Homo sapiens: one gene and its partners. Changing the gene in region 4 together with the main gene of any one other region gives a genetic interaction. Each region holds a gene or a part of one and is shown on either strand. Other genes may lie near its edges.

Region 1 (6,408 bases), on a different chromosome or scaffold from region 4:
TGGCTCACGCCTGTAATCCCAGCACTTTGGGAGGCTGAGGCAGGCAGATCACTTGAGGTCAGGAGTTCAAGACCAGCCTGGTCAACATGGTGAAACACCATTTCTACTAAAAATACAAAAAAATTAGCCGGGCATTGTGGCGTGTGCTTGTAATCCCAGCTACTCAAGAGGCTGAGGCAGGAGAATTGCTTGAACCTGGGAGGCGGAGGTTGCAGTGAGCCGAGACCGTGCCACTGCACTCCAGCCTGGGCAACAGAGCAAGACTCCATCTCAAAAAAACAAAAAACAAACACAAAAAAACAAAACCATGAAATAAATAATACAGCCATAATTCCACACAGAAATCATATGTTTGTTAGGGGGGTAAACCTATATGCAAATAGTTTTTTCACCATTAAACTGGCAAAAACAATAAGCAAGGAGCTTCAGAAGAGATCCTTGAACACTATAAGGTAATTCCAATAGCTCTCTACATGCAAAATTGAACTTCCCTACTAGAGTTGAAAAAAAAATCACAGCAATAAACCTTTAGCAGTGATTTTGCTTGTCTGCAATAATTTCCCTCTGTTAGGGGGCACAAATCACAAATCTTAGCACCAAGAGAAAAATGACTATCCATATATTTTAGTAATAAATTTAAGATAGTATCAGGTTTATTCTACAAACTTGAACTTCAATGCTACTAAAAGGCTAAATCTACACCTGCATCTTGTAGGACTCTTTGTCCACCCCATCCCTTGGCATTTTTCCAAAGCAAATCCATGATTCAATGGTTTTAATTTTTTTCTTATTATTCTTTAGTCTCATTGAGTTTATTTTTCTCATCCATGATTTCAGGTTATTTTGGATACTCTCTTTTCCTCCAGATTTTCAATATTGTCTTAAATATCAAGCAAGGTACAGCTCATTCATATTTTCCATCCTTAAGGTGTTATTTAATGGTTATTTTAGTTGAAGCTGAATACAGTATCTAGGATTTGCTTCGAAGTAATGGGGGTGAGAGAAGCAAATGAAGTCATGGAGGAAACAAGATTAGCCATAAATTGAAGCTCTATGACAGGTACTTCATATATTATACTGTTTTTCTTACATGTTTGAAATGTATTATTAAAAAGTTAAAGAAAAGGCTATATGAAGATGACTTCCTTGTTGATAATCAGATGTCTAAATTGCCTTTCAGACTTAAGGAAAAGATATAAGAACCACCAAAAAGGTTTGGACAAGTTGAGTGTGCAAAAGAAAAATGGCTATCACTGATACTAACACACTAAGAGAAATCCATGAATCCATAGCGATACTTAATCTTTAGGAAGAAAAAAAGTCTTTTTTGCAGAAAGTATGAGCCAGTAAACAGACACAGACCAACAGAATTGTGGGTTTTAAAAACAAAACAAAACCACCATTTGCTACTTCCAATGTAAGAGCTGATTTAGTCAAGATTTATCAATTGATAACTAGGTATAAGGTGATTTTAAAGAAAACGGTTATCAACTCACAGATTATTAACTGCAAAGGGGAACATGACCCTTAACAATGAGATCACCCTAAACCAAGTGATCAAACTTAACCATCCTAACAGAACCCAGCAGAAGTACCTGCTAATGTAATGATATAATGTTAAGTATTCTATCCAAAAATACTTAACCCAAATATCAAGGCTGAGTATAGACCTAACTGTAAAGTTTTCAGGAAATACAGATGAAGGGACAAGTTAAATGACATCATCAACCCCCAAACCAAAAGCAAGCAAGCAAACAAACAACAAAAAACAAATACACCCAGAAAAGCAGTGTTAAGTGTCCTTGACACTTCGAATAGACAACAGCCCCAGGGGAGAAGAATGGTGAGACTACTTAAGAGACAGAAGTAAATGATTCAATATGTAAATCTAGATTGATTCTGGTTAAAAAAAAAATCACATTCTTGGGACAAATGGGGAAATTTAAAGAACTAGATTTTAGAAATACTATTTTCTTGGGTGGGGAAATGGTATGGTGGTTATGTAACAACATTTTGCTCTTATTTATAAGAGAATGCTGAAATACTTGGGGCTGCAATGTGTCAAAATACTTTCAAATAAACATGCGTGGACCAGGCGTGGTGGCTCGTGCCTGTCTGTAATCCCAACACTTGGGGACACTGAGGTGGGTGAATCGCTTGAGCCCAGGAGTTCCAGACCAGGCTGGGCAACATGGTGAATTCCTGTCTCTACAAAAAAAATACAAAAATTAGGCCAGGTACGGTGGCTCACGCCTGTAAATCCAGCACTTTGGAAGGCAGAGGTAGGCGGATCACTTGAGGTCAGGAGTTCGAGACCAGCCTGGGCAACGTGGCAAAATCCCCGTCTCTACTTAAAATACAAAAATTAGCGGGGCATGGTGGTGGGCGCCTGTAATCCCAGCTACTGGGGTGGCTGAGGCAGGAGAATCGCTTGAACCGGGAGGCGGAGGCTGCAGTAAGGCGAAATCGCGCCACTGCACTCCAGTCTGGGCGACAGAGCAAGGCTCCATCTCAAAAAAAAAAAAAAAAAAAAAAAAAAAATTAGCTGGGCATGGTGGCGCGCGCCTGTACTCCCAGCTACGGAGGAGGCTGAGGTGGCAGGATCACAGAGCGCAGGGAGGTCGAAGCTATGGTGAGCTGTGATGGCGTCACAGCACTCTAGTGTGAGTGACAAAGACTCTGTTCTCAATCTATCAGCATGGGGAGATAAAGCAAATATGGCAAGGCTTTCAGCTGTTGATTCCAGGCGAAGAGTTGTCCTACAGGTGTTCACTGCACTTTTCTTTCAACTTTTCTCTATGTTCTAAACTTTGCACAATAAAACCTTTGGGAGAAATTATTTTTCTATAAATTTTCACCACCATCTGTCCCACTGAAACACCACAGTTCTAAAACATTCAAGAGGTCATGGTAACATTTCCGTGTCTTTGTAATTTTAGATAAATTCTAAGAATTAACAATGAATTTCGAAAACTTTCAATGAAACCTCAGTTCATTAGTCCTTCACTTTCAGATAACAAATACTAGATCAGAAAAGGGGTAAACAGTTTTGATACAGTAATTTTAAGACTTTGCATGCTTGGGCATGCTAACACTATGTAAAATGTAAATAGTGCGAAGATTTCTGGACTGAAACCAGTCCTCGGGCAAACACAAAACAATTTAATCAAACTGCCGACATAATGAAATCTACAGTCTTACAGACTATGCAATAGAACGCTCCTATTTTGCCTCATCTCTGCCAACCTCCAATAACATCTTCCACGTTATAAGCTAGGGAACCTGAAAAACGAAAACCTAAGTGCATGTCGTTGCTATGGCAATGGGAAATTTCAGGAAATTGAGACTGCAGGCTACCTAGCCTCCATTTTAGAAACTGTATTTATCTAAACACACCAGGACTTAGATCGAAAAACACATTTAATGGCATTTTTCATAACTATTTAGCTTCCTCTTTCACACTAAAAGGTAAATACTATCCTACAAAATTCTGAATACAAAGAGCAAAAGAAACAAATCACACTGATCTAACCTAAAAGTGTGAATTTTAAAATATTTAGTTGTCACTCATATTTACTATTAAAACAGATGCTTTTATTTACAGTGGCCAAAACAGACTTCTCATTTTCAACTTATACCTGCAATGTTTATGTAGCTGGAAAAATGAAAACGAAATGTGGCTAAAAGAAAAGAAAACGAAAGAAAGCCACAAAATTCCCAAAACCTCAGCATAACTTGCTTCTTTCTTCACTCGCTCTCATTAAGTCTTAATTCTCCAGATTAGCTTTGTCTCAAATATTTCTCAAACTAGTAACCTATTTCTGGGTACAGTATATTTGGCGGGGTAAAAGAAACACTGTCAAGTTTTTCTAAAACGTCGGGTGCACGTTAAAATAATTCCTATCCACTCTAATACCAAAACGATATCAAAGGAAAGCATCCCATCTGGAGTAGTCCCATGAATCTAAATAGGACGAAGCAGCCTACCGCTATTGTCTAAATCAAGTATTTACTCGTATTCATGCCTAAGAGAGAGAAGTAAAAAAAAAAAAATTAAATCTTAGATCTTGCTCCCCATTCCCACCACTCTTCTATATACCCTGTCCCCCGGGTTCACTAGACCCAATTCCTTCCTCAGCCGAACATGTCTGGAGCAGTCGGAGGAACAGACGTGGAGAAGAGGTCGCCACGAGGCCCCACCACTCTCCTTCCTCACCTGCTCCGTGGCTCCGTCTCCTGACATGGCCTCAGCTGATTACAACGTGCGCACTGACCGTCGATGGGAAGCTAGAAAAGAAAAATTAAACTAAAAACCACCCCCAAATCAGTAAAGTTACCCCCTGCCCAGCTGAGCCAGACCGCCAACACCAATCGCCACCGCCCACTCAAATATGAATTAAAATGGCTGCGCCCCTGCCGGCCGAGGAGGAGGTGTGTGGCTTCCGCATTAACTTCCGGGGCAGTGGGCGGGGCTAATTTCGCGACTCTGGTTATTCCGAGCGTGCAGAAAGCAGCGAGATCCCGGGGCGGGCCCAATTCCTGGGCTGACGTCACTACCCTGGCTTGGAGAGGCTGTTGCTGAGCCGGCTCCAACCGGCTGGAAGGCGGGAAGCTGTTTCGCCTGGAGGCTCGCGCGCTTTTTGGAATTCAGTTATCAAGCTTTAGAGCCTGGCTACTCACAGTTGAAGCCTGATTGCAGGTCAGCAATGCTAAACGTTAAATGCCTCTTATATTTAGGGGATAAGGACTCCGTGGAGGTTTTCTCTGGTCCCAGCTCCTGCTTTTTACTTTTCTTGGGGGTGGGAGGGATAGATCAAGCCCCCATTAATTTTTACTGCCACCGTCGACTCTTGTGTAGAAAGCTTTGAAGTCTGAGACCTGGGTTTTCAGCTCAACATCTCAGCTTGGTTCCTTGACTGCAAAGTAGGTATAATTGTTTGTAGCCCAGACTGCTTGGATTTTAACGAAGATAAGTAACTCTGGTAATTAAACTTCGTACCTCAGCTTTCTGGCCTATAGATGGGAATAATAATAGTACCTGCAAGTGAAATAAATTATACATAGAAAAGTGTTAGAACAGTACCTGGCATTAAGATTAAATGAGATTGACTGGGCGCGGTGGCCCACGCCTGTAATCCCAGCAGTTTGGGAGGCCAAAACGGATGGATCATTTAAAGTCAGGAGTTCTAGGCCAGGTGCGGTGGCTCACGCCTGTAATCGCAGCACTTTGGGAGGCTGAGGCGGGCGGATCACAAGGTCAGGAGATGAGACCATCCTGGCTAATACGGTAAAACCCCGTCTCTACTAAAAATACACACACACACAAAAAAAAATTAGCCGGGCGTGGTGGCGGGCGCCTGTAGTCCCAGCTACTCCGGATGCTGAGGCAGGAGACTGGCGTGAACCTGGGAGGCGGAGCTTGCAGTGAGCCGAGATCGCGCCACTGCACTCCAGCCTGGGCGGCAGAGCGAGACTCCGTCTCAGAAAATAAATAAATAAAGTCAGGAATTCAGGACCAACCTGGCCAACTTGGTGAAATCTCGTCTCTACCAAAAATACAAAAAAAGTAGCCGGGCGTGGTGGTTTGCGCCTGTAGTCCCAGTTACTCGGGAAGCTTAAGCAGGAGAATCGCTTGAACCCGCGAGGCGGAGGTTGCAGTGAGCCGAGATTCCAGCCTGGACTACAGAGCGAGACTCCGTCTCAAAAAAAATAAAAAATAAAAAATTAAATGATACTAAATCTTCTCAAACTGCTCTTCCATTTAAGCGTCATCGTTAGATGTCTGCAAGCATTTCTCGCCTACGGGGGTCCAATGCCCTAAAATAACCTAGTGAACTGTTCCCAGACTCGCCTTATTCTTTTAGGTCTCCTTTCCTCTGCTCAAACTTACACTTACTCCCTTTCCACAGGCTGAAATCTTACCCTTAAAATAATCAGACACATGAGCAAAAGATATGTATTAACAGATGTTCATTGCACCATCCAGCAATGGAGGACTGGTTAAAAATATCACAAGATTTATCTCTGCAATGGAATATCACACAGCAAACTGATGCTAATGTACGATGACTGACAGAAAGGCAACCACCGTATTAAATGAAGAAAAGCAGAATATGAAAGTGTTTTACGTATATATACTTACCACTTTAGCATCCTAATCTGAAAATCCAAAATCTGAAATACTCCAATGAGCATTTCCTTTGAGAGTCATGTCAGTGCTTAAAAAGTTAGATTTTGGAGCGTTTTGAGTTTTGGAACATTTAGGTTTTTTTTTTTTTTTCTCTTGAGGCAGAGTCTTGCTCTGTCGCCCAGGCCGGAGTGCAGTGGTGCGATCTCGGCTCACTGCACCCTACACCTCCCAGGTTCAAGCGATTCTCCTGCCTCAGCCTCCTGAGTAGCTGGGATTAC
Region 2 (6,595 bases), on a different chromosome or scaffold from region 4:
AAGGGTCCCCAATCCCTTAAAGTGCATTGTAGATGCTTAATGTTTACTGGGTTAATAAATTATCACGTGAGTAACTAATCTGTGGTTTTTTTTTTTTTTTTTTTGGAGCTGGAGTCTCACTCTGTCACCCAGGCTGGAGTACAGTGGTGTGATCTCGGCTCACTGAAACCTCTGCCTTCCGGGTTCAAGCAATTCTCCTGCCTCAGCCTCCTGAGTAGCTGAGACTACAGGCACATGCTGCTAAGCCCCGCTAATTTTTTTTTTTTTTTTTGTATTTCCAGTAGAGGTAGGATTTCACCGTGTTGCCCAGGCTGGTGTCGAACTCCTGAGCTCAGGCAATCCGCCCACTTAGGCCTCCCAAAGTGCTAGGATTACAGGCGTGAGCCACGGCGCCCGGCCATTTGTGTTTGTTGTTGTTGTTGTTGTTGTTTTTTGAGATGGAGTCTCACTCTGTCTCCCAGGCTGGAGTGTAATGGCATGATCTCAGCTCACTGCGACCTCTGCCTCCTGGGTTCGAGTGATTCTCCTGCCTCAGCCTCCCAAAATTCTGGGATTACAGGAATGAGCCACTGTGCCCGGCAAGAAATGAATTTTAAATTTTATTTATTTTTAATTAATTTGAATTTAAATTGCCACATGTGGCTAGTGGCTACTGTATCAGACACCATATATCTCTGTATGGTAGCATAGTCTTTTTTTTGTTTTGTTTTTGAGACGGAGTCTTGCTCTGTCGCCCAGGCTGGAGTGCAGTGCTGCCATCTTGGCTTACTGCAATTTCCACCTCCCGGGTTCAAGTGATTCTCCTGTCTCAGCTTCCCAGCAGCTGGTATTACAGGCGCGTGACACCACGCCTGGCTAATTTTTGTATTTTTAGTAGAGACGGGGTTTCACCATCTTGGCCAGCCTGGTCTCGAACCTCTGACCTCGTGATCCACCTGCCTCGGCCTCCCAAAGTGCTGGGATTACAGGTGTGAGACACCGTACCCGACCAGTCTTTTTTTTTCCCTTGAGATGAAGTCTCGCTCTGCCGCCCAAGATAGAGTGCAGTGGTGCGATCTCGACTCAGTGCACCCTCTGCCTCCTGGGTTCAAGCAATTTTCCTGCCTCAGCCTCCCGAGTAGCCGGGACTACAGGTGCACGCCACCATACCCAGCTAATTTTCGTATTTTTAGTAGAGACGGGGTTTCACCATGTTGGCCAGGCTGGTCTCAAACTCCTGACCTCAGGTCATCCGCCCACCTCGGCATCCCAAAATAATGGGATTATGGCCACCGCCCCTGGCCCTGTTTGGTAGTGGTCTAAATAGTCTGAGTCAGGCAATGGGACCAGGTAGGCTTTCAGTCTCTTGCTTAAAAATGGAGATTGTTGGCCGGGCACGGTGGCTCACGCCTGTAATCCCATCACTTTGGGAGGCTGGGGCGGGCGGATCACGAGTTCAGGAGATCGAGACCATCCTGGCCAATATGGTGAAACCCCGTTTCTACTGAAAATACAAAAATTAGCTGGGCGCGGTGGCGCGCGCCTGTAGTCCCAGCTACTAAGGAGGCTGGGGCAGAAGAATCGCTTGAACCCGGGAGGCGGAGGTTGCAGTGAGCCGAAACCGCGCCACTGCACTCCAGCCTGGAGACAGAACGAAACTCCCTCTCAAAAAAAAAAAAAAAAAAAAAAAAAAAAAAGGAGATTGTTGGCTAGGTACGGTAGCTCACGCCTGTAATCCTAGCACTTTGGGAGGCCGAGGGAGGCAGATCACGAGGTCAGGAAATCGGGATCATCCTGGCTAACAAGGTGAAACCCAGTCTCTACCAAAAATACAAAAAATTAGTCGGTGTGGTGGCGCGCGCCCATAGTCCCAGCTCCTCGGGAGCCTGAGGCAGGAGAATTGCTTGAATCCGGCAGGCCGAGGTTGCACTGAGCCAAGATCGCGCCACTGCACTCCAGCCTGGGCGACAGAGCGATACTGCGTCTCAAAAAAAAAAAAGGAGATTGTCAATACGCGGTTATACAATGTCTAAATGCTGGGCTGTTGAATGCCACTGACAGTAAAAAATATCTGTGCATAGTGGCAAGCCATAAGTAGCACCTCAGTCACCGTATAGTAATTAACTGCGTATCCTGGCATCCCGACAGGCAACCAGCTCTACCGGGTGAAAAGGTTGATGGCCAAGGGACTCCAACCTAACCAGGGCGCACTCGCGGCATTCTGCGATCCCGCACTGCATCATGGACTTTGTAGTTCAACATGCCAGTGACGTCACTGCCGGTTCCCCTCTGAGTGGGCCTATCGGGTAGACTTCCGATAACCCGTTTTTCTCTGGGAATTGTAGTCAGTTAGCGCCTGCTGGGTGTCTGCTCGGGTGGTCTGGGAACTACAATTCCCGGCGGGCTGTGAGATGCCTTGGCTGTAGTTAGTAAGGAGCCGGATGATTGCCTCAGCAGGTGTGAAGCGTGTGCTTTAGTTTCGTGGGAGGCCTGGCATCCCCGAGAGGGAGGGGAAAGGTAACCACTCCTTTGTGGAGGTCGCCAGGGTCATTGTCGTGGATTTGCACAGTCGGCTGGGCGGTGCAATGGCGGTGAGTTTGAGCGAGAAGAATCCGCAGGGGCCCTGGAGCCGGACTGGCCAGTCTCTAGGGGCTCTCCATGTGCTGTCCTGAAGGGAAAGTCCTTTTCTAAAAGAGAGCCACGCTTAAGGCGTGCCTTTCGTAGAGACTTTGCTTTTTCTTGCTAGTTTATGAACCACGAACTGATGTCTGTTAACTTTACGGAGTACTTGGATATCATATTTGTTATTTCTCTGGAGTTTCTAAAATCGAGGTGGAGAGCCGGGCACGGTGGCCCACGGCTGTAATCCCAGCACTTTGGGAGGCCGAGGCGGGTGGATCATTTGAGGTCAGGAGTTCGAGACCACCCTGGCCAACATGGTGAGACCCCGTTTCTACCAAAAATACATAAATTAGCCGGGCGTAGTGGTGCGCGCCTGTTAACCCAGCTACTCGGGAGGCTGAGGCAGGAGAATTGCTTGAACCCGGGAGAGGGAGGCTGCTGTGAGCCAGGATCGCGCCACTGCACTCCAGCCTGGGCGACAGAGTGAGACTCCGTCTTAAAAATAAAATAAATAAATAAACAAACAAATAAAGCCGAGGTGGAGAGAGGAGTATGTAAGTTGATTCCTACTTACAGCAAAAAAAAAAAAAAAAAAAAAAAAAAAAAAAGAAAAAATTGAGCGCCTCTCCGTAAAACAGACAAAAATCTCTCTTTTCATAGTGTTTATGTGTGTGGGTAAAATACATTGTAAAATATTGTGTCAGGTGCTGATAAATGCTGTGGGGAAAAAATAGAGCAGGAAGGGGTGCTAGGGAGTGTACGGTGGGGTAGTACAGTTGCAATTTTTAAAAATTTTTTTAAATTTGGGAGATGTTCTCACTCTGTGACCCAGACTGGAATGCAGTGGCGTGATCATGGCTCACTGCAGCCTGGACCTTAGGGCTCAAGCGATCCTCACACCTCAGCCTCCCCACAGCTGGTACTGCAAGCGTGCTCCATTACACCCTGCTAATTTTTTGTATTTTTAGTAGAGACAGGGTTTCGAACTCCTGGGGTCAAGCGATCCTTCTGTCTCAGCCTCCGAAAGTGCTGGGACTACAGGCATGAGCCATCCCGCCTGGTTTTATTTTTTTTTGTTTTTTGTTTGTTTGTTTGTTTTTTTCTTGAGACGGAGCCTTGCCCTGTCGCCAGGCTGGAGTGCAGCGGCGCGATCTCGGCTCACTGCAACCTCCTCCTCCCAGGTTCAAGCGGTTCCCCTGCCTCAACTTCCCGAGTAGCTGGGACTACAGGCGCGCGCCACCATGCCCAGTTAAATTTTTTGTATTTTAGTAGAGACAGGGTTTCACCACATTGGCCAGGATGGACTCAATTTCCTGACCTCGTGATCTGCCCGCCTCGGCCTCCCAAAGTGCTGGGATTACAGGCGTGAGCCATGGCGCCTGGCCTGTTGCAATTTTTAAAAGGATGATCAAGCAAGGCTTTGCCAAAAAGGTGGCAAAAACGAGGTAAGAGAGCAACCTATGCAACTATAGGAAGAAAGAGATTTCCAGGCAGGGGCAACAGTGTAAGTGAAAAGCAGGGATCCCGGGTAGAAGCCAGGGATGCTTCTAAACATCCTGCAGTGCACAGGACAACCCCTGAAAACAAAGAATTATTTGGCCCAAAGTGTAAGTAGTGCCAAAGTTTAGGAACTCTGATTTAGTTATATAGCCTTTTGTTACCAGTGAGGAGGTTGAGTCTCAGATTGATCAAATGACTTGCTCAAGGTTATACAACAAGTTGGTGTTTGGGCCAATATCAGATTTTATTATACTTGATCTTTGAGGTTTTGAGAAACAAGTTTTTCTGAGAAACAGAAAACTCAAATAAAAGCTTTCTTGCATTTGGCATACTCAGTACAATGAAAAGAAACACATAGTTCTAAGTAATTTGTAAAAGACTTGCTTTCATAGTCTTCTTTACAATGGGTGACATGATCATATTTTTTATTTTTATTTTTATTTTTTTTTTGAAATGGAGTCTCATTCTTTCCCAGGCTGGAGTGCAGTGGTGCCTCCCAAGTTCAAGTGATTCTCCCACTTCAGCTTCCTGTGTAGCTGGGACTACAGGTGTGCGCCACCATGCGCTGCTAATTTTTGTATTTTTTGGTATAGTTGTGGTTTCACCATGTTGGCCAGACTGGTCTTGAACGCCTGACCTCAAGTGATCCGCCCACCTTGGCCTCCCAGAGTGCTGGGATTACAGGTGTGAGCCAATGCACCTGGCCATATTTTTTATTTTTTGAGACAGGGACTCACTCTATCAACCAGGCTGCAGTGCAGTAGTGCAATCATAGCTCACTGCAGCCAGCCTTGATCTCCTGGGTTCAAGTGATCCTCTGGCCTCAGTGTTCCCATGTCCTGCTCATGGTAATTTTTAGGTAAAAGATATTTGTTACATAACTTCTGTGTCTGTGGCATTGTACTTTGTGCTAAGGTGACTATAAACAATTTAAAAGTTCCTGCCTGTTGAGAATTTACAGCCCAACTGCATAAATGTCTTAAGATCATTGGTTGCATTTAACAGAAGTCAACTCAAGTTGGTTAAGGAGGAATTTAGTAATAAAGTGGAAGTTGGCCAAAGGCGATGGCTCAAGCCTGTAATGTCAGCACTTTGGAAAGCCAAGGCTGGTGGATTGCTTGAGCCTAGGAGTTCAAGACCAGCCTAGGCAACATGGTGAAACCCTGTCTCTACAAAAAAATACAAAAACTATCTGGGTATGGTGGTGCATATGCCTGTAGTCCCAGCTATTCAGGAGGCTGAGATGGGAAGATTGATTGAGCCCAGTAGGTCAAGGCTGCGGTGAGCTGGTGCTTGCACCATTATGCTCCAGCCTGGGTGGCAGAGGGAGACCCTCTCTCTCTCACACAGACACACACACATAAATACAGTGAAATTTCATATTACCCATGACCGTAGGGTAGGAGATATGACTAGGCTTCATGAGGCCCTACATACTTTTGCCTTTGTGGGTGGGTCCTTTCCTCTGTAAAAATATTAGAAATTATATTTTACAGACCGGGCTGGGTGGCTCATGCCTGTAATCACAGCACTTTGGGAGGCTGAGACGGGTGGACCACCTGAGGTCAGGAGTTTGAGGCCAGCCTGGCCAACATGGTGAAACCTCGTCTCTACTAAAAATACAAAAATTAGCCAGGTATGGTGGCACGCACCTGTAATCCCAGCTGCTCGGGAGGCTGAGGCAGGAGAATTGCTTGAACCCCAGAGATGGAGGTTTCAGTGAGCTGAGATTGGTCTTGCTGTGTTGCCTAGGCTGGAGTGCAGTGGCTCCATCTTGGCTCACTGCAACCACCGCCTCTTGGGTTCAGGTAATTCTCCTGTCTTTGCCTCCCGAGTAGCTGAGATTATAGGCGCATGCCAACGCATCCGGCTAATTTTTGTATTTTTAGTAGAAATGGGGTTTCGCCATATTGGCCAGGCTGGTCTTGAACTCGTAGCCTCAGGTGATCCACCTGCCTCGGCCTCTCAAAGTGCTGGGATTACAGGCATGAGCCACCAAACCTGGCCAAAAAAATTGTTTTTCTTTTAAAGAGGAGGTCTTTCTATGTTGCCTAGGCTGGTCTCAAACTCCTGGCCTCAAATAATCCTCCCTCCTCAGCCTCCCAAAGTGTTGGGATTGTAGACATGAGGCACTACATCCAGCCAAGTTACTTATTAAGAAGAGGTTTTGAAGTGAGAGGGGGCAGTGGCGTTGATAGTCTAAATGAAGGTGGTTAGTAGCAGGAATGGAAAGGGATGAACAGTTGTGCAGGCTTATTATTTCTTAGAAAAGAAAATACCTTATACAATCACTGTTTTATGGAAACTTGAAAAGAGTCCAGGTATTTTTTTTTTTTTGGTGGGGGATGGAGTTTCGCTCTTGTTGCCCAGGCTGGAGTGCAATGGTGCAATCTTGGCTCACTGCAACTTCCACCTCCCAGGTTCAAGCGATTCTCCTGCCTCAGCCTCCCAAGTAGCTGGGATTACAGATGCGTGCCACCTTGCCTAGCTAATT
Region 3 (5,807 bases), on a different chromosome or scaffold from region 4:
GTTGCCCAGGCTGCTCTCGAACTCCTGGCCTCAACCTGTCTTCCTGCTTTGGCCTCCCAGTTTTGTAGGGATTACAGGCATGAGCCATCGCGCCCAGCCGAGAACCCCTGCCTTTTAAAGGAGCAGATAGATATATCAATAAAATATGGAAAAGAACTCCAAGATCCATGGCCGGGTGCAGTGGCTCACACCTGTAATACCAGCACTTTGGGAGGCTGACGCAGAAGAATTGCCTGAGCCCAGGAGTTGGAGACCAGCCTGAGCAACAAAGGAAGGCCCCATCTCTATTGTTAATAAAAATTTAAAAAATTAAAAAATCCAAAAGAACCCCAAGGCTGTCCTTATAGAAAGGGACTCTGGCATACCTGTAGTTGTGTTTTCATACATCATCTTGCTGATGATGCCAATGGCCTCTGTAATCTTCCGGGAGAAGCTGTAGGCATCCTGCAGATACTGTACCAGCATCTCCTGCTTCACTAGTTCATCATTTCCCCTGGATTCCTCAGGATCCGACATATTGGGTTTATTTTTACAGACAGTCTGTCCTGTGACCATGTTTCCTGTAGACTCCCGGGGATTCTTTTCTTGTGTGGAAGCTGCTGGGCCTAAGGAGTTAGAGAAGTACAGGATGGTTTCGTTCAAGGGGATACAGGGGAATCCAACAGCTGTCAACATTCCTGGATATTTACTTATTTATTTTCCTTCTTCTTTTCTTTTGAGATGGGGTCTCACTCTGTTGCCTAGGCTGTGCAGTGGCAATGATCACCGCTCACTGCAGCCTCAACTTCCCCGGGCTAAGGTGATTCTCTCACTTCAGCTCCTGAGCAGTTGGGACTACAGGTGCGTGCCACCGCACCTGGCTAATTTTTTTTTGGTATCCCTTGTAGAGATGGGGGTTTCGTCATGTTGCTCAGGCTGATTTTCAACTCCTGGGCTCAAGCAATCCTCCTGCCTTGGCCTCCCAAAGTGTTAGGATTACAGGCATAAGCCACGACATCTGGCCCTGGATATCTCTTTTCACAATGTGAAGATATGAAATTAAAACTTACTCTAAAATATCTAAATTTCTCAAAAACCATACCTAAAGACCGCTATGGTCTGGACAGTCACCCTGTGACTATCAATCTTAGGCCCGTGGGCTGCTTCCATTCCAGAGCAAAAGTAATGCCAATTCATCTCTGGGCTCTTCAGCACCAGGTTCTGTTAACCAGGCCAATGATGGCATAAAGTTAATGCTCAGTAAATACCAGTTGACATGTGTTATTTATTGACTGAAGAAGGAAAATGATTACCTTTGAAGATAAGTCCTAAGATATTCAAGAGCCTGGTCTCCTCTGACTCCTCTGGGTCTATATGACTGAAGGGTTCGGACTCCTGGAAGTGGCCTGTGGCTTCTCGAGTGAGAATGATGGCCTTTCTGAAAGAACACCAGCCTGTCAGTACCCAGAAGAATGTCACTGCAGCCGTTTGTAAGGGAGCTTACCTCATGATTCTATCAAGTCCCTGGACCTACTGCCCAGAGAAAAGGAGCACTTAACATGCTTAAAAAGTTGTTACAGCACCTACTAAGGGGTAGGGCTCAAAACACTTTGCCTATTTTTTTCCCCTGACTGCTCATCTGCAAACACTTTTCCTATTTCTGAACCTACAAGGCATTACTACAGTCTTCAAAAAAACTCCAATAAGGCTTTTTAAAGTTTTAAAATCATAAACCTACTCCAAACACCTGTTTAAAAACTTTCCTAAGTTTAGAAACAATAAACTTTCAATAATTAGTTAATTCAGGCACATCCAGACAATAAGATTCTATGTAGTCATAAAAAATAATGGGGACACGTGAGCCCAGGAATTTGAGATCAGTCTGGGCAACACAGGGAGACCCAACTATACAAAAAGTAAAAAAAGTTAGCCGGGTGTGATGGTGTGTGCCTGTGGGTGTGATGGTGTATGCCTGTGGGTGTGATGGTGTGTGCCTGTGGGTGTGATGGTGTGTGCCTGTGGGTGTAATGGTGTGTGCCTGTGGTCTCAGCTACTCGAGGGAGCTGAGGTGGGAGGATCACTTGAGCCTGGGAGATCAAAGCTGCAGTGAGTTGTGATCATACCACTGTACTCCAGCATGGGCAAAAGAGTGAGACACTCTCTCTCTCAAAAAAAGAGGAGAGTGGGAAACTATTTATGTATAAATATATATGTGTATATATATATATATATTTTTTTTTTTAGAGACAGAGTCTTGTTCTGTCACCCAGGCTGAAGTGTAGTGGCATGATCTTGGCTCACTATAACCTCTGCTTCCTAGGTTTGAGTGATTCTCATGCCTCAGCTCCCCAAATAGCTAGGATTACAGGTACGTGCCACCATACCTGGCCAATTTTTGTAATTTTAGCAGAGATGGGTTTCGCCATTTCGCCACGTTGGCCAGGCTGGCCTCAAACTCCTGGCCTCAAGAGATCCACCAGCTTTGGGCTCCCAAGGTGCTGGGATTACAGGTGTGAGCCACTGCACCTGGCCATCTATAAATTTTTTTTTTTTTTTGAGATGGACTCTTCCTCTGTCACCCAGGGTAGAGTGTAGCGGAGCAATCTCAGCTCACTGCAACCTCTGCTTCCTGGGTTCAAGCAATTCTCCTGCCTCAGCCTCCCAAGTAGCTGGGATTACAGGCATGAGCCATTGCACCCAGCCATAAATATTTTTAAAAACCACTGAGACACATAGTTAAGTGAAAAAAACAAGATGGTAGATCAGTGGGCAGAGAATTCTATCAGTCATATAAAAGGGGGAAAAAAAGAATACATGTTTGACTGCTTGTCTACATGTTATCTTCTTGCCACGTTGCCCAGGCTGGCAAAGGCCAGGCCTGGTGGTGTGTACCTGTAATCCCAGCTACAAATTATAAATAAATTAACCAGGCTACTCAGGAGGCTAATGTGGGAGATCGCTTGAGCCCAGCAGGGTTGAGGCTACAGTGAGAGGCTGCAGTGAGCTGTGATTGCGCTACTGTACTCCAGCCTGGGCAACAGTGAGATTCTGTCTCAAAAACAAACAATCCTTTTCTAATTGACAGGAGAAAATACTAGAATGCTTGGTGGAACATGCACTTATAAAACTATAGTCTCTATTTTTGCTTTAGCAAAATAAAAAGAGAGACACTAAAGTAACATAAGGGAGTCATAGGGCAAACAAGCCACTCTCTAGCCTTCTAAAAACAGCCCAAGCCGGGCACGGTGGCTCAAGCCTGTAATCCCAGCACTTTGGGAGGCCGAGGCAGGCGGATCACGAGGTCAGGAGATTGAGACCATCCTGGCTAACACGGTGAAACCCCGTCTCTACTAAAAATATAAAAAAAAAAATTAGCCGGGCGTGGTGGCGGGCGCCTGTAGTCCCAGCTACTCGGGAGGCTGAGGCAGGAGAATGGCGTGAACCCAGGAGGTGGAGGTTGCAGTGAGCCAAGATCGCACCACTGCACTCCAGCCTGGGCAACAGAGCAAGACTCCGTCTCCAAAAAAAAAATTCAGCCCAATTAGGTAAGAAGTAAATAAATAACAAATAACTTGTGGCTGAGGTTTAAGAATACTTGTTGGCAGCCGAGTGCGGTGGCTCACGCCTGTAATCATGGCACTTTGGGAGGCTGAGATGGGTGGATCACCTGAGGTCAGGAGTTCAAGACCAGCCTGGCCAATATGGTGAAACCCTGTCTCTACTAAAAATAAAAAAATTAGTGCGGTGTGGTGGTGCGCGCCTGTGGTCCCAGCTACTTGGGAGGCTGAGGCACGAGAATTGCTTGAACCTGGGAGGCAGAGGTTGCAGTGAGCCAAGATCGTGTCACTGTACTGCAGCCTGGGCAACAGAGTGAGTGAGACTCCATCTCAAAAAAAAAAAAAAAAAAAAAAAAAAAAAACTTGTTGACGGCTGTAAGGGCTTTTGTTGTTAAGTTCTAGAGTCACAAAAACACTAGGAGAAATCTTTTCTCTAAGATCAGGATTCATACTAGGTTTGAAGATTAAGGTAGTATTAAGCATGTTTGATATTATTAGTTCATGAAATTTAGAATTAGAAAGTCCTTAGAGATCATAAGATCTAATCAATTTCTTATTTTATAGATAATGAAACCGAGGCACAGAAAGTTAAGCAACTTATTCAAGATCATACAACTAGAACTTATTTATAGGTGCTCTTCTTCAATTGAAGGAGGACTCATGTTTGATTATAATACTGTTAACATTTAATTGTTTCAGTAGTTTTTTTAAACATTTATAAAGTAGAAACACATGCTTAATTGTGGACTAGGCCTATGGTCAGACCATTACTACATGAAAACATCTACCATCACCTGGTGGCAGCATATCTGTGTGCAGTTAATTTAAAAGACACATTATGTAAGTTTCTCAAAGGTTAACTCTAAACATAAACAGATCACGAAGAATATCCCATTCTTTTGCCTACTTGTAACTAGCTTTGGCAAGCAGTTGATAGATGCGTCCTTTCACATCTTCAGTTGTCTCTGTATTGGCAATTTGCTCAGGAATCTCCTCCTCTCCCTGGGGAAGCTGTAGAAGCTGCTGCAGGGTAGACTTCAACTCTGGCAGCATGGCTTCCCACTCCTCCTCTGGGTCCAGCACTGCAGCTAAATGAGAGTGTCACTTAGTCTCTTTCACTAGAGTTTCTGACTGCAAGGAGAAGCCTGTCTGGCATTAGGACTCCAAGGCAGTAACTACTTACAAGCTGCTGCAGTTCGCCTCTGGGCCCTCATCTCTTGTAATTTCTGGGTCTCCTTCTGCAGTGGTCCGGCAAGGTCAGCATCACTAAGCTATCAGGTAAAATGAATAGCAGGGTCAGTAAATGACATAATTTCATCCCTGTTTCCATTTAATTCCTTCTCTTTTGGTGGACCAAGTCTACTTACCTTGCAGGAGAAAGGATTATTGGCTAGAAAACTGGCCAGCAGCTGGATGGCATTTTTACATACTAGCACTGACTTGTCTGCCAGACGTCCCACAGCTAAAGCCACCACTGCCTGGAAACGTGTCAGGGGGAGAGCCTGTGTAGGGTAGGAAGAGAAGAATCTGCTCAAGTCCCACATCATCCATTTTGTTCAAGATGATCTTTAAGTATACTCTAAACTGAGCTACCCACTCACTCTAAAAACCCTTTCTACAGAATATAGATTAGGAGTACTCCTTGTAGTGGTAAGACACATTACAGTCCTTAAAGGGAGCCAGATATCCTCGTCCTTGGTAGAGGAAGACTTTTACTACTGATAATAAAAATGTGAATTCTAGACCTCTTTGGGGCAGATATTTATCTTCAACACTGGATTCCTCTTTACACTGGTATATGGAGAGGTACCATATGTTTTTGCCACATAGAAGTTGGTTACCTTCTGCTGGACAATTCGGGTGAAGAGCTGCAAAACACGGCTCCGCACAAAGGAGTTGACATCATGGCCATGGGCTTGTAAAGTATCCAAGAACTGGTCTCTGGTGTCTCGGGCTGCTGCTTCCAGTTGATCGCCACTGAGAACCTGCAGCACCATCTCCGCCATGGCTGCCAGCACAGCATTACGCATCATGTAATTCTAAGAGAGAGAAGCATAGAGGGGTCAAACCTTTAGTCAAGGCGAAGCTTGCTTGTGCTTGGCCATAACTTTTTCCATTAACTGCCTAGGTATTCACTCCCAAGGTCACAGGAGAAAGCTGAATCCCAAAGAGGACTTGTTGCTCAGAGAATGCTAGAACAAGGGCCAAAACCAATTTTTCCTCATAGGGCTCACACAGGAAAGCATGGTAGTAGCTGAATAAAAAAATCAC
Region 4 (5,807 bases):
GGAGGCCGAGGCAGGTGGATCACCTGAGGTCAGGAGCTCAAGACCAGCCTGGCCAACACAGTGAAACCCCATCTCTACAAAAAAAAAAAAAAAAAAAAAAAAAAAATTAGGCATGGTGGCAGGCACCTGTAGTCCCAGCTGCTCCGGAGGCTGAGGCAGGAGAATTGCTTGAACCCAGGAGGCGGAGGTTGCAGTGAGCTGAGATCACACCACTGCACTCCAGCCTGGGTGGCAGAGCGAGTTTCCATCTCAAAAAAGAAAGAAAAAGAAAGAAAGAAACCTTGGGACATATGTCCAAGTAAGTGAGGGCTGGAAGCTTAGTTTAGGGTAACAGGAATGGTAGGGATGAAAAGGATGAAAAGCTTGTCAAAAGATTTAGGAGGGAGAAGACATAGGTCTTGCTGACTGACAGAGTATAAGATCCCAGGCCAGGCATGGTGGCTCATGCCTGTAATCCTAGCACTTTGGAAGGCCGAGGCAGGCAGATCACCCGAGGTCAGGGGTTCGAGACCAGCCTGGCCAACATAGCAAAACCCTGTCTCTACTAAAAACACAAAAATTAAGCCGGGTGTCGTGGCGCATGCCTGTAATTCCAGCTAACTGGGAGGCTGAGGCAGGAGAATCATGTGAACCTGGGAGGCAAAGGCTGCAGTGAGCCAAGATCACGCCACTGCACTGCAGCCTGGGTGACAGAGTGAGACTCTATCTCAAAAAAAAATAAAAAAATAAAAAATAAAATAAAATAAAATCCTGGTACTAGTTAGGGAGAAGAAAGAGTCGTTTGCAAGTTGGACAACTGGGTGGCTAGATAGTGATACCTGTTCTATGGGCTAGAACCAGAGCTGGGAAAGCTGCCTTAGAGAGCATGCCTGTTTCCTGGACCTGTCATTGCTTGGTAAAGGATATACTAGGCCAGGCATCCAGAAGCCCATAGGGAGCGAGTGAACTACCCACATCTCACCACATGAAAGGCAGGTAAAAGGGATTGACCACTTCCCAGAGCCCTGGGGAGAGAAGAGGGTTGCCATGAACAAAGATGACAGGTACCTTATACACGGTGGTTTTATTTTCAATGGCATCTGCTATTTTCGTCATCGGAGAATGGAGCAACTTGATCTCCATTTCAAGTGGGTCCGTGTCACCCAACAGCTCATCAGATTCTCCGGTGGCCAAGCCTTTAACACAACCAACACCACTGTCAGGGCCCTGGCTCCCCTCTGTTGCCAGCCCCCTGGTCAGGCCTCAGTGAAAAGGATACATGGATGCTTCCCAGGGGAGTCAGGTGCAGGAACTTTTTCACTCCTGCTGAGAGGCCACATCACCAAGAATTAAAAGCATGGGTTTTGCAGTAGGACATTCACTTGCTGGGAGCTGGACTCAGAGCTTCAGCTTCCTCATGTGGAAAATGGGAATTCCACAAGCCCTCTTCACACTGGGCTGCTGTGAGACATGGCAGATGTCTGTAATGCTCTGGCCCAAGATGCTGCTCTGTAAATGGCAGGCACTGGGATTCCCTCCCCAGGACCAGACTTTCTCCTCCTCTCTCTGGCCCCTTGCCTGGAGCTGGCCTCTACTGCAACCCTCAGATGTGCCCACTGCCCTGTGCCCCACTACCCTCATGCCTGCTTCTATAATTTTGCCCCTATTCCCTACCCTCGGCCTTCTAATCCCTACTCACCCTTCAAGATCCAGCACTAGGGCCAAGTCCTCCAGGAAACCTTCACCACTAAACCTGTTCCTCACTGTCTTCTCAATTTCTCAGACCTCAGTCTTTGGCCAAAATGTATTCTCAGTGATGGAGCACCTCTTGCCCTCACATCCAGCCAGGGTCAAGCATCATCATAAGAACATAAACTCAAACCCCTCTCAACTGCCCTATTTAACAGAAGAGGAAACTAAGGCCAGATACAGTGGCTCATGTCTGTAATCCCAGCACTTTGGGAGGCCAAGGCAGGCAGATTGCTTGAAGCCAGGAGTTCAAGACCAGCCTGGCCAACATGGCAAAACCCCATCTCTACTAAAAATAAAAAAAATTAGCCAGGCGTGGTGGTGCACACCTATAGTCCCAGCTACTCAGGCAGCTGAGGCACAAGAATCACTCGACCCCAGGAGGCAGAGATTGCAGTAAGCCCAGATCATACCACTGTACTCCAGCCTGGGCAACAAAGCAAGATTCTGCCTCAAAAAAAAACAAAAAGAGGAAACAAATTCAGAAAGGGGGCTGACTTGCTCAAAGCCACATGAAATACAAACTAGAAAGCAGGCAAGTCCTCTTAACCTCGTGTGTAACACAAGGACACTAAAAGACCCAGAGAAGGAAAACTACTGGACCTCAAGAGAAAAAACAGAGAATCTAGAAGCCAGGCTAGCCAACGCTTCCTCAACTACCCCATAATGTCTACAGACAAGCCCAGAAGGCACTGGATACCTTCCTTAGGCAGTGTAGAGAATGAAGCAGGGAGCCACAAGCCAGGGCTGCAGAGAGTAATATCTGAGGAGGGCAAACATTCTCAGGAGTTTCTGAGAGTCACATCTCTGTTCCCCAGCAAATAATCATCTTAATAAAAACTAACATTTACTGAGCATCTATTTACTATATGCCAGGCACTGTTGTTCTAAATGTCTTTTACATTATTAAAAAAATCCTCATAACTACCTTATCGGGTGGACTTACTGTCCCCATTTTACAGATGACATCATTGAGACAAAGAAGTGAAGTAATTTGTTTAGCATCACACAGTAAAAAGGAAACAAAGCTCGGATTTGAATCCAGGCAGTCTATACTTTTGGACACCCAGCTCCTGTGAGCTGGAAGAGTCTTCAACAGGGCAGGAGAACTGGGTCAAAGGCCACCTCTGCTGACATCCTTTTGGCAAATATCAGCTTTCTGTGACTTGGGTACCTTACTCACCGATAGGGGTAAGAAGGAAAATCGAGAAGTGGACCTGAAGTGGTTGTGAAAAAGCCTAAGGCAACATTAGAGAGTTTTTGAGAGAATGTCTCAGTCCATTCCAGGTCCCAAGAGACAGGAATGGAGCTTCACATTTCCAGAGCACCTCAATGGGTACCAGGCACTTTTTCTTTCGTTATTTACCAAAAGCTCACAACCACCCTCCCCCAACCCGCCCTGCCAGGGCCAGATTAGAATTCCCCACCTTGCAAGAAAAGAAATTAGGCCTGAAGCTGCTTAAGCAACTTGCCCAAAGCCCAAGTAGGGCCAAGGAAGCGGGAGGTCAAAAGTGGGATTTGCTGTCAGGTCTGTGTGGCCCCACTAGTGCAAGACCAAGTGCACCCACCCTGCCCACACTTACATTCCATGGTGTCTTCATTGGCCTGCTCAGTATCCTCGATGTCAAAGACCTCGGTCATTTCCTTAACGATCTCAGCACTGAGATGGGTGGGCAGAGTGTGAGTGGCTGGTGGTGGTATATAGAAGCTGATCTTCCCGCTGCATTGGGAGATAGGGGAGATGAGTGGTGCTGTCACTGAGAGAACCAATGACAATCCAAGAGACGATGAGTTTGCAGGCCAGAAACAGCAACGGAACAAGAAAACCCAGACAGTGGCTTCTGAACAAGAAGGAGTTGAGTTGCTGGATAATCACTGGGCATAAAGTCTCGAGCAGGACATGACCTGGCACCTTGGCCATCCTCTGCCCCAAGACCCAGGAAGTCAAGCTGCCCCAGCGGCAATGAGCACAGATGAGCCCCTTTGGGGAGCCAGGCTGCCAGCGGGCCTCACCCTTACCCCTAACCCCCTCCTCACCTCACCCAGTCAGCTAGGACAGCTTTGGCCGCCTGTTCCTGACTATATAAGCCTCCCTTCTTCTTCTTCCCCAAACGGTGGGCCACTGCCGTCAGAAAGTGCTCAGTGGTCTGGAACCCAGAGACGCCATAATAGTTGGAAATCTGGTGAAGGGAGGAAGGAGAGAAGTCATGAGGAGGAATGAAGGGCCCTTAGAGTAGGGCAGGGCATCAGCCAGGGCTCTGCTGCGGACCTCCTCCAGGTTGCAGCGCTGCAGGATGGTCTCCACTGGGGTCACAGGGTCTGCCAGCTTCTGCACGTGGACGCAGTTACGCAGGATGGTGCCCACCTCTGAGTTGGGCCCTGGGACAATGCCTGGAGCATCCAAGAGCCGGATGAACTTGTCCAGGTAGACCTCCTGCATGAATCTGGGGCGGGGAAGAAGAAAGCCCAGATGTACCTGGCATCGTAGAGGCCCCAATCACGAAGGTGGGCCTGGGATGTGGGAGTGTAAAGGAGTGAGGGGAGGGTGCATTAGAGACGAAGGTGGAGAGATGTAGAGTTGGAGGAGGGGTGACTGGGGCTCTACAGACTTGAGGCTGATTCTAATCTATCCTCTGCCACTGGGGACTGAGCTGCAGGATCTTGGGCAAGCTTGACTCTCCAAGCCTCAGCTGCTTCATCCAGTCAACAGAGCTCCCATTTGTAGCCCAATCTTGCATCGTTATTCAGAAGCTTCAAGGCGCTAATGGGAACCACCCATGTGGGGACCTGGCCCACACCTAGGGTGTATCAGGAAAATGAGGGCTATGAGACTCCCATGCCTGGGGAAAGCATCAGGGGATGGTCCATGATAAGGAAAGGGACAGGGGCTGAAGGCATGGGAGTTGGGGGGAAATGGTAGGGTCAAGGAATTGTGGAGTGGAGGAGCAGGCAGGTGCTTACTTGGTAATTCCAGGAACAGCTCCCACGCTGCATGCGCGGCTGCGCTTCAGGCTATTGATCAGGCTGCTCTTCCCAACATTGGGAAGACCTACAAAATAGCAGCAGATGGCTCAGGGCAGAAGAGGCCCTCAGGAACACTCAGGCCAGCCTGTGTGAGGGAGGCCTAGCCAGGGGTAGTAACCAGGCCATGGGGAAGCCAAAAAATTGAGCCTGACCTCCTCCCTTCCCACCCCAGGCCCTGACAAAGCCCCTACAGGGCCTTTCTACCTCTCCCCTCCATTTGTGAGCATGCTAGATAGGTATGTCCCTCTTTCTAGACGTGACACCAACCTCCCACTCACAATCAGCCAGGCAGAGGTCCTCAATGCAAGGCCTCAGTGGCACAATCCAACAGAAGGTGGACATCGAGAAATGTCTAAGAAACAGAGAACAACCTGTCTGGGTGTATCATTCCATGGATGGGGATGGAGGTCATCTCCAGATGCCAGTCTCTCTGTGCAGCTGTCTACCTGAGGTGTGTATTTTGCTGTTTGTGCATCTGTCAGCCATTCTCAGCCTGTGGATGTCTTTGTGTTTCCCCTCACTGGGCCTCATTCTCACCGTTCTCTTTCTGTATGTGCTCAATTTACATGTGTGTACTATTGTCTCAAGCATATGCTTGTTTCAACCCGAGAAAGCTGATTGCCTAAAGAAAAAAAAGGTATATGTCTAAGTATACCTCTCGTGCATGAAGCCTCTGCACACCTCTCTCCCCCCTCCCTCTCTCTAGGTCATTCTCATTCTAAATTATCACCATGCATGGAAGTCTCTACACATCTCTCTCTCTCTCTCTCTCTCTCTCTCTCGGTCATTCCCATTCTCAGTATCACCACTTTTTCCTTTTCTTGTATCTCTCCCACTCAGTCTCTTTCTCTATCTTATCTTTGTTTCTCTCTGTGTCTCTGTATCTAAGCACCTCTTTCTCTGCCAATTTGTCTGTCTCTCATTCTGGCCATTGTTCTTTTCTCTCTGATTCTCTCCACCCCACCAATCCTGCCTCTATTTGTAATTCCCTCCATGCCAACTCCTGTCAGCCTCTGTCCATGCTCCTCATCTCTGTGGGCTGGTCACTTCATGGA
Region 5 (5,807 bases), on a different chromosome or scaffold from region 4:
CAGTCTCTTTCTCTCAGCCTTGGAGTACTAATTTTTTGAGATAAGAGATATGAGAGAAATCCAGTGGTCAAAGTGTTTTGGCACCCCAGTGATTAATCACCAGGACATTAAAGCAACTCTTATCTGCTTTCTCTTAGATACCAGAGAGCCCTCTTCTCACCAAGCTTTACTTCCCACAGACACCATCTGCAACTGAGCTTAGAAATGTCATCAGCAAAAGCAACAATCTCAGGATATGGAAGAAGAGGATAAAAAGGTGAAGGTTGAAAGAGGGGAAGCAGGAAGACAGAAAGATGACTCCCTGCCTTTCCTGGCCAGGGTACAAAATAATCTTTTGTACCCTACATAACACAAATGAAAAGCTCCTTTCATAGCTCCTAGCAATAAGAAAGTATGGTTAGTTTACTTTCTCCTTCACTTTCCACTACAGTAGGTTGAGGATCCAGATAGACATTTGTCTTCTGAATTGACTCTCATTACCTTTCAAAACAATGAAATAGCAGTAACTCTAAATACCTGGTAGGGTTAAGCAATCAATACCGATGGTAGGCCTAAATTATTCCAGTTGAATGGTGAGTGGGGAGAAAGAGAAATAGGGAAAAGAAGTGGGTGGATAGGAGATGGAGAGACAGTTGCGTACAGTAAGGAGTACCACCAGTAATTCCTTCAGGTGTCGTACTCCCCCAGTCTTTCAACTCTGGCTTGGAGTAATCTCCTACTTGAGAGAATTCCTAATTAGGAACACTGGAGGTGTTCCTACAGATAAGAACTGTCACACCTGGACAGTAAAATTAACCAAAGTGTCCAGGAATGCTCACCTTGCCTCTCAGGACAACCAGAAGACTCAGCAGTTCCACCTCTCCCTTGGAATGGTTGAGTGCTTCCTCCCTTGAGGAATTCCCCATTCCCATTCCACTTAGCCCTTATGGATGATTAGGATATGAAAAGTCACTCCATAGTTAAAAAACAGTCAAGCTATGAGGCAATCTTTAATAACAATGGAAATCCCAAGATCAGCACCAAGAGCATTAACTGTTTACTTCTTTGAGGCATTAACCATACAGTTAAGGATGCCTATCTAGGAAAGAACAGTGCCTAAGAAATTGAGGTACTGAACAGCATGGTTTCTGGTTAGAAATGGCCTTGGGTATGACAGAAAAATCTAGGTTAGTAAGGTCCTCAGCCTTTAGGCCCAGAATTGAAAAGACACTGCTTCAATTTTCACTGCTATGAAGTGAAAACAGTATTTTCTAGTAGGTTGAAGTTTATACCCCAATCATGAACTTGCAACCAGGAACACATAATTCCAGAAATTGGAACAATCTTGAGCTCTCCATTCTCCTTATAAGATGTGACTTAGCCCACAGGAAAGGGAACACCACTTAAACTTTTGAGGATTCAAAAACAGGTTAGCAACTCTCATCATCACCAGTTTTTGAACTCAACTTCCTTCTAATTTCCCTTGCTCTGGTGTATCCCTTAACCTTCCTGTATGACTTGCTCACCCCATTTACAACTTCAGATACCTATCGCCCTTCTTTCTTTCTCCTAGTGGACTTTATCTGCCCTCTGCCCATTTGTCATAACTAGCAGGATTGCAGCACATACCACAGGGGCAAATTTATCCTGTGTTCTAAGCCATGAAAGAGAAGGGGAAGCAATTCTGTCTTCAGGTGGAGATGGGAAAGATTTTGGAAACAATAGAGATTTTAACTTTTAAACAACTTTTTGATTCACTTTCTGGATTGGCAACGCATCGGGAAATCTCAGCAAAGGTAGGTACACTAATCCCCATGCTGACTCTGCATGTAATAACATGGGAACTGAGGTAGGGTGGGTGGTGAAGTCTGGTTTAAGACTATCCTTTGGGTCTAAACAGCCTCTTACCAACTTCCCTTGATGACAGTTGAGCTCAAACCCACTTACCTCTCCTGTCAGGAGGAGTCAGGGTACATGAAGCTCAACTCTTTTGATGGTTTGGTACCATTATTTGTATAACTTTTCTACTTTAAAAAAATCACATTTCATGGTTTTTCCCAACTCATTTATTCTCTAGTTCCTAGTCTAGCGTTTTCAAGCACCTCTTCAAATCCTGATAACCTTTTGCTGGGAGGGGGAGTTAATGAGTCTATAATGATTCTGAGACAGAGAACCCCTAAGATAAAGTGGAGGAAAAACGTCCTTTATACATGATTAGATATGCTCAGGGGGTACAGATTAAGAAGTAAATGCAATGGAGCAAAAGTGGTATAGTAACAGGAAATATTTAATTTTCCAATCTCCACTTTCCATTTTTATAAACTGAAAGAAAAAAATTTAATATATTACAAAATATCTGTACATAGACAAGATACACCCAATGGGGGTCAAAAACGAGAGAGAAAGGAATCAGTGTCAGGAACCTAAATCAGGGAGAATGAGGTGGCAACTGACACTTTTCTGATGCAGCATTCTCTCTCAAAACCTGCTGGTAACCATTTTAGCACGGTAACTATATATGCATATTATATATACACACACACATACAAGTGGTTGGGTGATGTCTATGGCATAAGCTAATAGAAGTTCTACTTGCAAATTTGTGCTAACTGCCCTGCTTTAAACGTATAGATTTGATGTTGCTTTCAAATACTTATCGTTCCTATGGACAGTTGAAGAAAAAACTAAGGAAACTGGGTCAAGTATATTTGTTTTCAAAACCACAAAAATGATCACGGTCAAACCAGTTTTGCCTCCCACTCATGAACAGAATCAGATTTCTCATCTGTTCAAAATAATGTATTTAATAGACAATATCTCTCATTGTACAATAATTAAAACAAAACGAAAACCACTTTTGAATGGAATTAATTGGGTCTGTAATTTTCAAATAGTCAAGGTGAAATTCTGCCAAACCTTTACTTCCATCATGTTTATAGATAACGTAACTGAAAAATTAACAAATACCTTTTCTTCCTCCATACAGATTCCAGGATATTTAAATAAGTTTTTTTTTCTCCTCTGCTTTTAGAAATAGTCAAAACTACCAAACTTTGTTTTCATTTTAAAAGACTCCCAAAATGGGGGTGGGGGTGAGATGGGATCATACATACACATACACTCACACATACACTCACCCCCTTCCCTAGTAGGGATGAGGGAATGGAGGCTTAAGTATATTATTTAGGATATTTGGCATAATTAAAAATAAGAGGTGGGAGAGGGGAGGGAAAAACATTATTGATGACTGCTGATAACCAAAATACAATGAAATATATAGAGAATTTTATTCATATTTGATGGGAAACCAACTTTTTTTCATTGAACAGATACTTCTGAAAGTATCCCAGGCTCACGTTCTTTAATAAAAAACAGGGAGTGGGGCCCAATAACTCAAATTCAAATATTCTAAAACACAAAGGCCCATGTCTGAGGACTAAGAAGTCAACAGACAGAAGGTTCAGATGAACTTTAATGCGATTTACCAATAGCATGTCAGTAAGCCTAGTAAATCTAACTGGACACACTGGTATAAAAAGCCATCAATGCCAAAATAGCTAGAAGGCTCTCTTTCTAAATCAGTGTTTGGCCCTGGAGGCAAGGCCAGATCAAAAACCAGAGAATAATAAAGAAATACACACACCGATATCTAGCTATATCTCATTAACAGGGGAAAACAGTCTTCAAGTAAGTATCTGAAGAGGGTTCTTCTTTCATTTCTTTAAAGTTTTTTTTTTTTAAGTAATGCACCTTTCTCTTATAAGTAGATTTTATTTTTTAAAATAAGAACTTGGCATTGAAACATGAAACTTGAGTTTTGAAAACTACCCTCCAAGATGCTGAAGTATGTTTACTTTTTCTTTGTAAAAGGGGGCTTAACCTATGTTTCCTGAAGGTCTAAGTCTGTGCAGATAAATTATATGACATGTATCTGTTTTTAAAACACTCTATATGCTGGTACTCACATAGAAATAGAAGCCAGAATGAGAAGCCTCCCAAATTATCCCATCCTGACAGCCCTTCCCTTTTTCATTTCCTGTTTATGATAAGGCAAAGTTCTTGCCTGGAAGCACAATTTAACCCCTTTTACCAAAACCAAATCCAAATCTCTTTGGAGGAAAAATCCCTAAAAGAACTGGCAGGGTACACATGCTGGGATGTGGGTATGTCAATACTGTTCTTCCTCACAGTATGCTGTTTTAAAATTATTTTTTTAAAAAAGGTCAGGTATTGATGTATCTTCAGAAAAATACCCACCCTAAACTAGGTTACATTTCCATGTATCTTCAGGATTTGTTTTTCTCTTTGACAATATCACAATGCTCTGTTTGAAAGGTTTTTGTTTTTTTTTTGACATAAAAATATATGTGTAAACAATATGCTAAATGCTGTTATTAGCCCTCTAGGAATGGAGGCATCATCTCTAACCACAGCTCAGCAGCAATGTCCAAGCTGTCCACACTTACAAATCAACTTCCCCATCAGAACATGGTTTAAAAAACAAAACATTTTAGAATTGAAGAGTTACAGAGAACAATGTAAGAGTCTGAATTTCCTTTCCTTTATTTCAAAAAAAGTAAAGAATTATCCCAGGTTCTTGGGCATCTCAACGATTTTTTCCAAACAAATGCCTCAAAGAGAGAGAAACAGCGAGAGCGAGCAAGCGAGACAGAGAGAGAGAGAGAGAGAGAGAGAGAGAGAGAGAGAGAGAAAGAGAGAGAGAGAGCACACATCAGCAAAAAAGGAAAGAGACTGGGTAAAGTCTACCTACTTGCCCAAGAATGCCACGTTCTACAACCTGCTTTATGTGCAGGGAGAAGGGCGTATCTTTTGTCAAAGTGGAGTAAACTTTAAGGATGAGTAATTTATTTGGAAAAAAAGTATGTTCAAGATGCTCAATGGGGAAAAAGTGTTCACTTAAAAGCAAAATGTGAGATGGTGGAGAGGAAAGAAACATTTATTCAAATCAGCCAGGCCACTCTGTTTCCCTTATAGCAAAAGCCAAAGAGCAGCTCAAATTTTGTGAACACTATTCTCTTTAAAGGAAAAAAACCCAAAACACCTAAATTAAAATTCAAAAGAAAGAAACCACACACAATCCCCCACCCCAAAACTTTAAAAATCAAAGAGCCTCTCCTGAGCCATCTCAATACTGAAACTGTTCTTTCTCTCTTCCGATCAGTAAGTGCAGGCAATGAACTAATAAAACATTTACTTTTCAATGTAATGATCCTCTCCATATTCTCTACTTGTATCTACTAAGGTAGAGTTGAAGTAAATGTTCTGGCTATAGCCCATCCAGGGGGAACTGGTGCCAACATCATTATTTCGTAAGTCGCCTGCTAGTAGCAAGTGAGCAAGGAATACAACGGACAGCTTTGCAGTAGCCAAATGCAGATGATTACCTCGCTCTGGCAAATGATTTCATTAAAGATTCAGAGAACTGGATGGAAGGATGGATAGGAAAGGAATCTTTCAGGACACTGAAGTCTCTGGGTTAGTAAGGAACTCCTCTCCCTCTTCCCCCTCTTGGTGGGACTCTTGTAGGCCCCCGATAGAGTTTTCCATAAGCAGAAGACTGAGTTGGGCCCCCCCAGTGAAGGCCTGCTCCTGAGCTGCTGGCCCCAGTGGTTCCTGGCCCCAGCTCCCCATAGTTTTGCAATTTGGTCTCTGCATGTACCACAGAATTGCTGCTTCCCTCAGCCTTCAGGAATGGTTGCCCGACCACCGGGTGTAACGCTAAGGGGACCCTGGCAAAACGGAGGTCCTGGTCCCCTGGAAACTGCACTGACCCTGTGCCCTGGTAACTGCTGGACTCCCCAAGGTGG

Evidence for each region.
Region 1: changes in GNL3L (region 4) and CSTF3 together harm fitness more than expected from each alone (negative genetic interaction), as found in Homo sapiens cells (one large-scale study listed by BioGRID).
Region 2: changes in GNL3L (region 4) and LARS1 together harm fitness more than expected from each alone (negative genetic interaction), as found in Homo sapiens cells (one large-scale study listed by BioGRID).
Region 3: changes in GNL3L (region 4) and NCAPD2 together harm fitness more than expected from each alone (negative genetic interaction), as found in Homo sapiens cells (one large-scale study listed by BioGRID).
Region 5: changes in GNL3L (region 4) and CDK12 together harm fitness more than expected from each alone (negative genetic interaction), as found in Homo sapiens cells (one large-scale study listed by BioGRID).

The regions. Positions count from the first base shown.
Region 1 is NC_000011.10:33,157,083-33,163,490, forward strand, and holds the start of CSTF3 (cleavage stimulation factor subunit 3), read right to left. Parts: upstream 4,399-6,408; 5' UTR 4,244-4,398; coding exon 4,217-4,243; intron 1-4,216. UniProt on the Homo sapiens protein: One of the multiple factors required for polyadenylation and 3'-end cleavage of mammalian pre-mRNAs.
Region 2 is NC_000005.10:146,178,463-146,185,057, reverse strand, and holds the start of LARS1 (leucine--tRNA ligase, cytoplasmic), read left to right. Parts: upstream 1-2,407; 5' UTR 2,408-2,564; coding exon 2,565-2,570; intron 2,571-6,595. UniProt on the Homo sapiens protein: Aminoacyl-tRNA synthetase that catalyzes the specific attachment of leucine to its cognate tRNA (tRNA(Leu)).
Region 3 is NC_000012.12:6,516,596-6,522,402, reverse strand, and holds part of NCAPD2 (condensin complex subunit 1), read right to left. Parts: intron 5,576-5,807; coding exon 5,378-5,575; intron 5,039-5,377; coding exon 4,904-5,038; intron 4,808-4,903; coding exon 4,720-4,807; intron 4,625-4,719; coding exon 4,444-4,624; intron 1,418-4,443; coding exon 1,293-1,417; intron 606-1,292; coding exon 366-605; intron 1-365. UniProt on the Homo sapiens protein: Regulatory subunit of the condensin complex, a complex required for conversion of interphase chromatin into mitotic-like condense chromosomes.
Region 4 is NC_000023.11:54,549,933-54,555,739, reverse strand, and holds part of GNL3L (guanine nucleotide-binding protein-like 3-like protein), read right to left. Parts: intron 4,778-5,807; coding exon 4,690-4,777; intron 4,173-4,689; coding exon 3,998-4,172; intron 3,909-3,997; coding exon 3,766-3,908; intron 3,449-3,765; coding exon 3,312-3,448; intron 1,176-3,311; coding exon 1,048-1,175; intron 1-1,047.
Region 5 is NC_000017.11:39,530,986-39,536,792, reverse strand, and holds the end of CDK12 (cyclin-dependent kinase 12), read right to left. Parts: coding exon 5,477-5,807; 3' UTR 2,249-5,476; downstream 1-2,248. UniProt on the Homo sapiens protein: Cyclin-dependent kinase that phosphorylates the C-terminal domain (CTD) of the large subunit of RNA polymerase II (POLR2A), thereby acting as a key regulator of transcription elongation.